Linked DNA regions of Homo sapiens. The protein of the gene in region 1 interacts with the protein of each later gene in a biochemical or structural test. Each region holds a gene or a part of one and is shown on either strand. Other genes may lie near its edges.

Evidence for each region.
Region 2: of the proteins of RPS6KA5 (region 1) and ETV1, one has a biochemical effect on the other in vitro, tested with the Homo sapiens proteins (one study listed by BioGRID).

Annotation. Positions count from the first base shown.
Region 1 is NC_000014.9:90,868,429-90,875,729, reverse strand, and holds part of RPS6KA5 (ribosomal protein S6 kinase alpha-5), read left to right. Parts: intron 1-369; coding exon 370-529; intron 530-1,934; coding exon 1,935-2,098; intron 2,099-3,407; coding exon 3,408-3,656; 3' UTR 3,657-7,301. UniProt on the Homo sapiens protein: Serine/threonine-protein kinase that is required for the mitogen or stress-induced phosphorylation of the transcription factors CREB1 and ATF1 and for the regulation of the transcription factors RELA, STAT3 and ETV1/ER81, and that contributes to gene activation by histone phosphorylation and functions in the regulation of inflammatory genes.
Region 2 is NC_000007.14:13,890,440-13,895,678, forward strand, and holds the end of ETV1 (ETS translocation variant 1), read right to left. Parts: 3' UTR 790-5,239; downstream 1-789. UniProt on the Homo sapiens protein: Transcriptional activator that binds to DNA sequences containing the consensus pentanucleotide 5'-CGGA[AT]-3'. Required for olfactory dopaminergic neuron differentiation; may directly activate expression of tyrosine hydroxylase (TH).

The DNA.
Region 1 (7,301 bases):
TTTTTTATGGCTGCATAGTATTCCATGGTGTATATATGCCACATTTTCTTAATCCAGTCTATCGTTGTTGGACATTTGGGTTGGTTCCAAGTCTTTGCTATTGTGAATAGTGCCGCAATAAACATACGTGTGCATGTGTCTTTATAGCAGCATGATTTATAATCCTTTGGGTATATACCCAGTGATGGGATGGCTGGGTCAAATGGTATTTCTAGTTCTAGATCCCTGAGGAATCACGTAATCTTTTAAACTCAATCATGCTAGTTGTAGCAATTGGTAAATTACACCAGTTACGTTACTATTAGGATTATTAGAGTGGCTTTAACAGATCTGGGTAGTCATTCTGTTTTGTTACTTTTTCCCTGATAGTACACAATGTTGTCAGGACAGGTTCCCTTCCAATCTCATGACCGAAGTTTGACGTGTACCAGCGCGGTGGAAATCATGAAGAAAATTAAAAAGGGAGATTTCTCCTTTGAAGGAGAAGCCTGGAAGAATGTATCCCAAGAGGCTAAAGATTTGATCCAAGGTAAGAATCTAATGAAATTTTACATTTTATATGATGTGTAGTGATTGAAGTAGAATCATGGCCATTACACATACATTCATATGTTAATTACTCGAGGAATCCATGTGTATTCTAAAAGGCTTCCAGGCTACTCTCTTCAGCCTTGTTTTCTTATCAGAACATTCTCTTTAGTAATGGTATCCACATTTCTAACATGAGCTAGCACTTGACTTCCACTGGCATCTCAGTCAAGCACATCTAAAACAAACCAATACTTTTTGACTGTCCTTCCCCCCAAACACGCTCCTCCTCCTGTCTTTCCTCCTGTCAACAGTGGCACTGCTAAGAAGCCAGATCACCAAAACAGAAACCTAGGCGTCCTCCTGGATACCTGCACCTGCCTGCCTTCTGCAGCCAGTCACAGAGTTCTACACATTCAGCAGCGCTCCTAGCAGTCCGGTCCCTTCCTTCCCATTCACCTGCCGTTGCCTTTGTTCTCATCACCATTTCTCTCCCCAAATCCTGCAGCATCCTTTCACCTTGCCTCACTTCCTCTGACTTAAGCTGTTCATCATCTGTCAATAGAGGGACTTTTCTAGAATCCCTATGTGATTATGCCTCTTTTCTGCCAAAAATCCTTTGGAGACTCTCTGTTTGCTTCAGGTCAGACTCCTTAGCCTAGCATTTAACATTCAAAGCCCCTCATGACCTGGTCCTGTCTGCCTTTGTTTCCTCCTCACCCCAGCTCTGCCGTTGCAGGATATTTGAATTCCTCAGATATGCTGAGCTTTCAGATCCCTCCGTGTCTTTACATGCTCTTAATCCTCTTCCATAGCCACTTCTCCTTATCCTACAGGATTCATCTCCTAGAAGCCTTCCAGGATGCCCTCACTCCCTAGGCTACACTCTCCCTCAGGCCTGCTAACACACTGTGCCTGTGTATCTTGCTATCGCACTTATCCCTGATGTTATAATAGCTGGGGTTTTGCCTGTGTGTCTTCTGATATTAATAGCTCCTCTCTGCATCTCCATCTCCATATCTCTAGTGCCTTACTGCACTCCCTGACCTATAGAAGATGGCCAGTAAATGTTTGGTATATGGATGAAGTAGATCTGTGTGCTTTTTGCTCATTTGGAGCTTACGAAGTCACCAGTGGGAATCTTTGTTTTGGATGTTTATTTTCTCCTGATTGAAAAGCCACTTCGCCTGGAGCTTCCTAGAAATAGGCTACTGTGACTTTATCATTAGACTCCAGCATTCACAAAAGAATTTAAATGAATAGGAAAATCTAATTATCTTTGTAGGAGGTTAAAGCTATATAGAAACCATTATGTCATGTGAACATAGCTGAGATTTATTTCTGAGTTTGTTTTTAAACCATGTTTAAAATGACAAATCATAAAATAAAAATATCTATTCCCAAAGGACTTCTCACAGTAGATCCAAACAAAAGGCTTAAAATGTCTGGCTTGAGGTACAATGAATGGCTACAAGATGGAAGTCAGCTGTCCTCCAATCCTCTGATGACTCCGGATATTCTAGGATCTTCCGGAGCTGCCGTGCATACCTGTGTGAAAGCAACCTTCCACGTAAGGCCCTGTGCTCTGTACATGTTGGGCGGTTTGAGTAGGAATCATAATCAAATGTTCTTACTCTGTAGCCTCAGATACGTTTTCTTTGTTTCACATTTAAAATAATATGTGTCCTTTTACTTTTAGGTATGTTTTTATAAATTGCTTCATGGTTATAAACACTTTATAACAATAAGTGCACAGGGGACCAGAGTCACTGCTAACCCACAAAATACATATTTAATTTTTAGAATGACCTTATGAGATGAGATAATAGAACTTTTTCCTCTCAAATAGACTGACTAAATTTCTTTAAAAACCATAATAAACATTAGGAACTAAGGCATATTTGAAAGTCCATTCATTTTACAACCATTTAGTACATCACACATTCTTAAAACTGGGAGGGATATGAAGTAAGTTCATTGGTATTAAGTATAGATTGTATGTTTGAAAGACTGAGACTATTTGGTAGAAACTGTGGATTATGCACATTTGTGCCAAGCAGATGCAAATATATTAAGATAATTCATGTGAAGTATAGTATAAGATGAGTTAGGGAAACAGAAAGTCACCTTCAAAGGGATTATTTTGAGAAAGGAGAAGGTATAGGGATAGTGCTTCTTCAGCAGCAGAAATGGATTTAAAAAGTAATAAACTAGGAAATGTTGAGATGGTAAAGAGATTAACTGCAAGAATTTCTATCAGATGATCCAAATCTTCTCAGTGACATAGGTTGCAAGGTGACAACTACAAGGTGTAACTGCAGCATTATCCAAGCCTAGGCTAAGGAGAGTGAAGACAGGCTGCAGGAGGAGGAAGCCAGGGCAAAGCTGTAGAGCTGTGCTTCTCCATGCGTGTAAGTGTCCAGTATATATCCAAATGACATTGAATGGGACTGAAGAGCAAAGACTCAGAATGCGTCAAGTCTGCTTGCATTGGGACTTTGTGTTCAGAATTTTAAATCTTAGACACAGAACCAGTAAAAGCAATGGGGATAGTTTAGATTACTGATGGTCTTCAGGAATTTCCAGTCAATTGTTTCGTATTAGGATGTAGTACTAACTTCTTCAAAAGATTTATTAGAATTGTGACTCTCAGACCGCCTAGCTAGTTTGATATAAACAGAGCCCTCAGAATTTTTTTCCCATGAACTTCTCCACCCTGCCAATAGACTTAGATATAAAGGTTTTAAGAGCTTTGTTCCCTTAAAACAACTTGGGGCTGCAGTTGCCAATGGAAAGTTGTCTTCTGCTGTAAGTCATAACTGCTAGGAAAGCTTCAGTACTTTTACCTTCACAGGGGTTCCCTTTTTTTCCCCCGCCAGGCCTTTAACAAATACAAGAGAGAGGGGTTTTGCCTTCAGAATGTTGATAAGGCCCCTTTGGCTAAGAGAAGAAAAATGAAAAAGACTAGCACCAGTACCGAGACGCGCAGCAGTTCCAGTGAGAGTTCCCATTCTTCTTCCTCTCATTCTCACGGTAAAACTACACCCACCAAGACACTGCAGCCCAGCAATCCTGCCGACAGCAATAACCCGGAGACCCTCTTCCAGTTCTCGGACTCAGTAGCTTAGGCATGGTAGGAGTGTATCAGTGATCCATTGCACCTTTATTCCCTCAGCATATGCCTGAGGCGATCTTTTATGCTTTTAAAAATGTTTCCCGTTGGTCTCATTGGAATCTGCCTCCTAATGATTTTTTTCAGGAAAACCTGTTTGGTTATCCTCATTCAAAAGCACTGGACAGAGAATGTTACTGTGAATAGAGCACATATTACTCTTTTTAGCAACCTAGCATGATGCCAACAAGACTATTCTTGAAAGAGCAAAGGTTCCTGTAAATTTAATTAGGGCTAGATTTGAGCTGCTTGTAAGTCACAGGTTTTCCAGATGTCTGCCAACAAGAAATGACTCATACTGTGATGATACCTTTTGCTTTGCCTTGTGGACAATGTGGGTTTTTGAAATTTGCACCCTTCAAACAATGATTTATCAGAGAAAGGGGTCTGTTTTCAAAAAAGATTCTGTAATGAATTTTATGTGTGGCATATACTTATTTCTTGAGAGAAGATTTTAACTTATTGTTTTTATTTTATGGTTACATATGATGATAACCTGCTATTATTAAACTTTTTCTAAAAAGTGAAAAAAAAAAAAAAAGATATAAGAACTCAAGGTCCCATACTCTGTATTCGGGATCCATCTGAGATGCATGCTAAGCTATGTGTATGTTTTTAATTTTGCACTGCTCTTTCCTGGCAATTTGTTTTAATGGTTATTGCAGAATATTAAGGTACATGTCTCTCTGTTTTAAGTAATATTGCACTTTATAAAAAAGTATGAATAAAGCAAACTATTTTATAAAGTGCACTGTTTAAAGCATTTGCACTGTATTTTTGCCATTTATTTTCATTTTCTACTTTAAATTTGTCCTCACATTCCTCTTCTACTTTGTATGCAACAAGTAGAATGGGGCATGTTGTGTCATGTAGTCAGCCACTTATGCACCAATGTGAGGAAAACCTAAAGGGAAATTAAACTAAACACTGTGCTTCATATTTGTACACTGTGTTGTACTACAGTGAGGAATTTCCTCCTGTAGTCATATATTATGTACATAATATTTTAGAATCATACCTATGACTTGTTTGGAAATTTTTCTGTTAAATTTTAAATCCAGAAAGCATATTTTATAAACTTATGCAGAGCACTTTTATTGCTCAAAAGTTCTGAATTCATACAGAAAACAAGTACTATGTGATGAAAACATTTCATTAAAAGATTGCTGCATTTAAAAATACAATTAATTCGTTCCCTATGCAAAAAAAAAAAAAAAAAAAAAAGAAGTGATAGGGTTTGTGTGTTATATTTTCTTTTAAAGCCATCATGTGAAATGTCAGGACTGAGAAAAGTGATTTTTTTGCTTTGTTTACAGGAATCATGCTTAAAGAGATAATGCCCAACATGTTTATTTTATAGTTTTTGTTAATGATAACCTTTTGAGCATTAGTTTGGAATTTGGACATGATATTTATTTATTCCTTTCTTGAGGTTATAGCAGCATTAATTTCAACCAGTTATGAATACTAAAAATATTGCACTCTATGTAATAGTAGTATATTTATTACTAAATCAATGTATATATTAATAGCACAGGCAAAAAATGGCAAATATTAAAATATTTTCAAAATATTATATTATCCTGTTCACATTTTGTCCACAGTGGTTATTGGGAATAATATTTTACACTTTTTGCTGGCCCAAATGGCTACATAATATTGAGTTAATGAAAGTTTTCTACTCCCAGCTTTCAGTTATTCCTAGTAATTATGGGAAATTTTGTGTGAATTATTACCAAACTATTGCTAATTCACAAAATGTGATTCCATCAGGCACAGATCTCTAGTAATCAAGAAAATGACCATATTTATAATTATATTGGACATATTGGGAACATATTTGGCTCTTCAAGCCATTTTTTAAACTGTGCATCCTGGTAGAAAATACTAGTTATAAAGTACAAACTAAAGGGACTATGTTGCTAATAGAAAATGATCCAGAAAAATGGTCAGACAGTATACAGATTGATGATGTGATTGATTTCATTGTGAATATTGGAAATTAATGGGTTTCATTTTCATTTATTTCCCTTGCCTCTTCTTGAGGAGGATTCGACAGGCGATGAAATGGGTAAAAAGGCAGTCAGACTAACAGGAAGAAGGAAAGATAGGCTAGCTGTCAACTGATGAGCCTGCCTGAATAATCTCAAATGGGCTTTTGAAAAGACCTTAACAAACACTGTTGCACTCTTGTCAAATATCTTTATCTACACCCTACTTATAAGTACCAAAAAGACAGCATTTGATGCCAAGTTTGAAGCAGTTAGGTCCTATGCAGGCTGTGTATTAACATACAGTGAATTGCACTTTAAAATTCAGAAAGCTTTCATTTGGTCACATCAAAAATAAACACTACAAAATATATAAAAAGTTAAATGATAGGACTCTTTTTTTGGTATTAAGAGTAAAATAGAAGAAGATCTAAGAAATACAAATACTTACATTATTTCTCCTTATGACATTAACTTTGGGACTAGAGCCACACCACCCCCTCCCTTCTTCACTTACTGATTGTATTGCATATAATTTTCATGCCAACATAAATCCTGATTCATATATTTTGTAACTGTATATGACAAATTGAGAGGCAAGAATAAGAAAAGGAAGATAATAGAGGAAAGATGTTAAGAAAGACCAGTTTCTTCTAATTACTCTGCCAGATCGTGTGTCTGAAAGAGGTTAATTAGCATTTTGAAATTGATTGGCTGAGTGTGGTGGCTCAGGCCTGTAATCCTTGTGCTTTGGGAGTATAAGACTGGAGAATCACTTGAAACCAGGAGTTAGAGACCAACCTGGGCAACATAGTGAGACACTGTCTCTCCAAAAATAAAAATAAAAATTAGCTGAGCATGGTGGCTCATGGGAGGCCAACATGTGGAGGATCGCTTGAGCCCAGGAGTTCGAGGCTGCAGTGAGCTGTGATCACACCACTGCACTCCAGCCTGGGCAACAGAGCGAGACCCTGTCTTAAGAAAAAAAGAAATTCATTAATTCTTCCAAACCTTTATAAAGTAAGAAACCACTGAATTACTAGAATAGAAAGTCAGTCTCCTGAGTTAATTTCCACATTGTTGTCTGTCTTGGAGTCACAGGTTCATTACCCAAGAAAACTGCCTTTTAATTTTTTTAGATTACTGTTGATTTCTTAAGTATGTAAATGACTAACTTTTAAATATAAGGTAAGTTATTTTAAAGAAATCTACTAAGATAGAAGTCACTTTTTTTAAAGTAAGGAAATTCCTTTTGTATCTCAGTTTATGTTCTCAAATACACTACTTTATAAAAGTATACAATTGACTGGATACTTATTCACCTTGCCCCCATTTCAAGCGCCTGTTATTGTCATATTTATTAAAAACAGGGTACCTCATAATGGTGAAAATTTCTAAATTATTGGGTCTATATGTGCCTTAGACTGCCTGATTACTTTGGCTGTTCTCCCAGTGACTGATAATAATAGCATGATTTGAGTGTTCATGTGAGAATACATCTAATATTCCTTAAGATCTAAGTAAATAAGTTAAATTCTGATATGCCACTTATGTCAAAATAATTGTTATATAGATGAATTATTACTGTAACATCATGAAGTATCTTAAAA
Region 2 (5,239 bases), on another chromosome or scaffold:
TATAAATTATGGGGACAGTGTATATAACTTTCTGAAGAGTTTGATTAGTATTTCTGTTTCTTCATTAAGCTGTACCCATCTCCAATGGAAAGAAACAAAGAGGTACTTCAATCAGTTTGATTTCTGAATGCTTAAAAACACTTAAAAAACAACTCAGTTTATTGTTGCTGTTGTTTAAATAGTGCTTGATTTCTTTTTAGATTTTTCTACAAGGAATATTCAAAAAAGAAAAAAAATTAAATAACACCGTGTTTCAGCAGAATCTGTTATTATTATAGATATTTTTGTCATTAGAAATTAAATCAGAAAAGTAGCTAGGTCCAAGTTCCCCAAAAGGTAGGGTTCATGATTTGCCTGTGACCACGACATCTTGACACCAAGACATACTGGTTTTGCCATTAGCTTCAGTTTCTCACCAGACAAAACCAAGCAATTTGGAGGCAGTAACATAATTCACATATCTGTGCTGTCTGGCATGTGGGAGTCACTGAAATAATTTAGTTAGTTCCCTTCCCCAAATTTCTCCATGATACATTTATTGAAGGATTTATGTGAAACAAGATATTTACAGAGATTAGAACGTAGAACTCAAAAAGGATTTATCAGGTGTCCTGGTATCTAAATTATCTAAAAGAATAATATATGGCAAAGTAGTGCAAACACATTACTTGAGTGCTGTGGTCATAAACTATTAAAAATGACACGATGATTAGAAGACAGTCAAAAATTTAGATGACGTTTATCAGTTTTAGATGTGCTACCTTTCAGAGTGATCACGACAGTCCAATATTTTCAGTTTCTGGGCTTTTATTTTAGATTTAAATTTTGAGCATATTTAATTTGCTATAATCATGATTTTCATAGCATGTTTTCTCAAACCGTAAGTATAATTTTAATACAACCAAGTGAATTAAAAATTTTCTTCCCCATAGAAGCATAAATATAATTTTAGAATGAAAGTAACTAATACTGGAGTCTATATGCAAAAAAGACCCTACCTTACATATGAATCCATAAACAATAGCCACGGTATATACACTTGTAACTGAAAATTCTGAAATCATTAATATTTCTATAAAGATATCCACTTAGTCTAATCAAATTCTCCTCTTAAACTGTACTTTCCATAAACTGTTTTTTTTTTAAGTATGTCAAAGTGAGTCTCATGTATATAAAAAAAGAAGTCCTAAAAGTACTAGTTGAGCTCTGAATAAACTGGGTGAAATTTTCTAGTATCATGCCCAACTATTACCATCTTTTTGAAACTTGATTTTTCCAATTCTTAGTAGAATTGCTTAATATGTACATTTGCCTTCTTTATATTTTTTCCACCATCACTTTTACCCAATTTGTATTTTTTTAATAATTCTATTTCCTCTCTTCTCCATACCAAATCGCAAATGGAAAATAGCTTACTCACTTCTTATTTTTAAATTTTAGTTTTTGTTTTCTAGGATTCCAAGTAACAAACATCCAAATGACCTTCTCCTCTGTAATGTTTTCTCATTACAAGCTCTGAAAAGGCTGCATGATAGACAAAGTGGCTCATTTTAGAAATCCCTATCATCTGGCAAAATTCTGTAGCTTCTGGCAATATATTTCTTTCCTGGTTATATAAAGATAAGTTGACTCATTTTGCAATTGTTCTTTTGAGTAATAGACATATTTTACACATTGTTCTTACCTAATAAGTAATAATCACTAGCAAATGATAAGATCACATAGTAACCCATATTAACACCAAAAGAAATGTATTAAAAAATAAAATCTGGATTAGACCACTGATTTAACTGTTATTACTATTATTATCATACCTTCTGTTTTTCTGTTTCATGACTTAGTGTTTTCCTGGGGGCTGGGGAAGGATTTGAATAATCTAAAGGCTTGATGTGATTACCAGACATTTTAGTGGAATAGTTGAAATTTAATATAGAAAGTTTTCAAAATTATTTATGCAGAATAAGGGGAAAATATCTCAGTGGTAAATAAAAGCAAACTCTAGTACTTTCAAATCCTAGATCCCTCAGCAGAACTCCACTGTTCCTGAGTAAATCAATTAGAGTCTTTGCTACACAGTCTTCCTCCTCCGTGCGGTGTTCTGAATAACAGCCCTGCCCTCACCCCTTACATCCATGTCCTAATCCCTGGGACCTATGAATAATTATCTAGCCAAAGGGACTTGGCACACGTCATTAAGTTAAGGATCTTGAGATGGAGAGATTGTCCTGGATTATCTGAGCATCCCCTAAATGTAATCACAAGCATCCTTATAAGAGGCAGGAAGGAAATTTGACTATAGTAGAAGAGTATGTGACCATGGAAGCAGAGATTGAAGTGATGTAGCCAGGAGCCAAGGAATGTCAGCAGACTCTAGAAGTGAAAGCTGGAAGAATCTCCCCTGGAGCCTCCAGAAGGAACCAGACCTAAGGACATCTTGGTTTTAGTCTCTTAAGGCTTCTTTTGAACTTCTGCCTCCAGAACTATAAGATAAATTTGTGTAAATTACTGAAGTTGTGGTAATTGGTTACAGCATCTACGGGAAACTAGACCTCCAAGATCCGCCCATGATTTGAGAAAAATGTTCTGCACTGTCAGTCTTGTGGATTTTTATTCTGAAGCACTTTTCATGGACATAACAAGAAAAATTATTTTTACTTAGTTATTTGAGTATAAGTGTTTGTTGCAATTAATCTATTGGGTATTAACATGTCATCATCAAGAGACAGCAAACAGCAGTGAAGATAAAAGCTGAGAGAAGACATTACATCATTAACAAATGATTTCTATGTTTGAGTAGCCAATTCAATGAGAAATTCAAAACACAAGAATCTTGCAGAAATCAGCTGCCAGATTTATTAATCTACCTGAAAACAAAAACATAAAAACTCAACCAAAAAGTGGAATCAAAACAGAACTTAAAAAATTTTAGATACATTTTTCAAAAGAGTTTATAATGTAATATTTTCAACCCTTCTGTATTGGAAATACACTTAATGTTGGTCAATTATGTATTTAGTTCAGTGAGTCACTACGTTAAAACAGCAAAACATATAGTTTGTCCTTAAATATTATATAACTAATACCATTTCTGCCATTGTTCTCTTGTGATAACGTTAGCATGGCCCAATTCTTCCTCACTGACTGACTAAAACTAGACTATTAAAAAGAAGAAAAAGGAGAAAAGAGAAAAAGAAAAAAAAGGAACAAAAATGAATCCTCAATACAGTTTTCATTCAGAATATATTTTAAAGACTCACTTAAATTTTCTCCTTCAATTTCACCAAATCTCAATTATATATCTCAATTCCTTTTTCCAATAAAACTTTCACTGAATATTTTAACATCTGTTTTTATTCTAAGTGCTGTAGATGGCCACATAAGCATAGTGGGGAGAAAAGGTTCTGATTTTTAAGGCATAGTTTTCTTTTTTAGGCCCAAAATGGGCCAAAATAATACATGATGTATATGAACAACAATCATTGAAATCGCAGGTTACATACATATTTTGAAATTGGAGTACTTTTTGTAGGATTAAATGTGAAGAGTAGCAATTTTGGTGTTTGGGTTTCTTGATAACTGCTCCACTTAGAGAAATGAGCTGTGATCTGTGTAGTTTTGGAAAATGGGTAGCTGGGGGGATCATCTTTAAACAATCTTTTTCATGCTCATCACGAAATGCTTTTACAATAGGTTTATTTTGACTTTGTGTTTAGAATTTTTTTTTTTTTTTGCTTTTTGCTATAGACTCTTTAAAAAAGTTGTTCTTCTGGATATTATTGATAGATGGAACAAAATTCATGTCCCTTGCTTGAATCTTTTAGCGAGCTATTCAGAGATTCTATATCCCCATTTACTCATGGTTTTTTCAAGGTGAATGAAACAACATACCCTGCTTTCAATATTTTCTCCAAATGCAAAGCAAAAACAGAACAAAAAACTTTGAAACTTTAAATCTTCTTTCAAACAATCCAATCACATTTACAGAAGTGTCCAAAAAGAGATGATGGATAATATCAGTGCCAGCACTATGTCATACAGCAACTTCCTCATATTCTTTGACGGTTTGTAAATAATTTTCCATATCACCAAAAGTTACAAAAGGTTCCACAGTTTCCTTTAGCAAGCTGAAGCTTACTCTTCATTTGTCAATGTGCATAAAAGCTGCTTATAGCATAGCATGGCGTAAGCTATTTTTTAAGCAATAAATGGTTTGAGTCATCTATTTTGTCCTGAAATGCTATCTGTAGTTAACTGCACTGCTTATAAATGGTCATAGTAAATTCAGCATGAAAGAGAATATTACAGAAAAGACAGCAGCAGAAGCATTAGCATTATCTAATATTTATATATGTTATCAACATAACACAGCAGTAAAAGGTTTAAATGCATATCAATGGGTACCATGTCTAAAAATTACTATAGTACCTATTTAGTGTATTGGATATTTTTCTTAAAGAGTGTTTGCTGTAACTAGAACAGCATAATACATGATTTAGTACAGTTAATTCTTATTGATTAAATAATGTATTTATGTACTGAAGAAAGTGAAAAGGAGACAGATATTTTTTGCTTCATTTTGATTCCAGATTTAACATTTAAATGAAGATTCCAAAGGACCATGACATGTCATTATTTAACTGAAATGGGCTTCAAAATATTTAAAAGACGGTATGATTTGTATCTAAACAGCAAGGTGGCACCAGATACACGTAATGCTACTGGCCTATGACTCAGTTTGGCGCCAGAGTCCAAAATTGTGCCCCTCATTTACAGTCATGGTGATTATTCAACTTCAGAGAGAATTACCCATTTTATGGTTATCCTCTGCAAGTCATATATAAAGCAAAATAAAACAACAAACAGCAAATGCAATCGCTAAATACCTTTTTACAAGTGGTGCAAAAACAGTCATTTCTAACAATTAAACTGCCATTTACAGTAGATTGGGGTTTTTTTGTACACCTGCAGAGACTCATAAATGACAGGGGAAAATGCCCAAGGCAAATAGTCTCCAAGTGGATATTTACACAACGTGAAATTAACTGTACCATAGATACCCCGATAAAATAAACATTATCTTATGTTGTTATGAAATCAAACAGACATGATATAGTTTCATCATACTCAAAACTTGTAGGACCCCATCCCAAGCCTAAGTAAAAAGTAATCCCCAAATCCCTCTGCCCATTCACCCATTAGCTTCCTGTTACACAGAATAAATGTTTAGATTACTCCCACC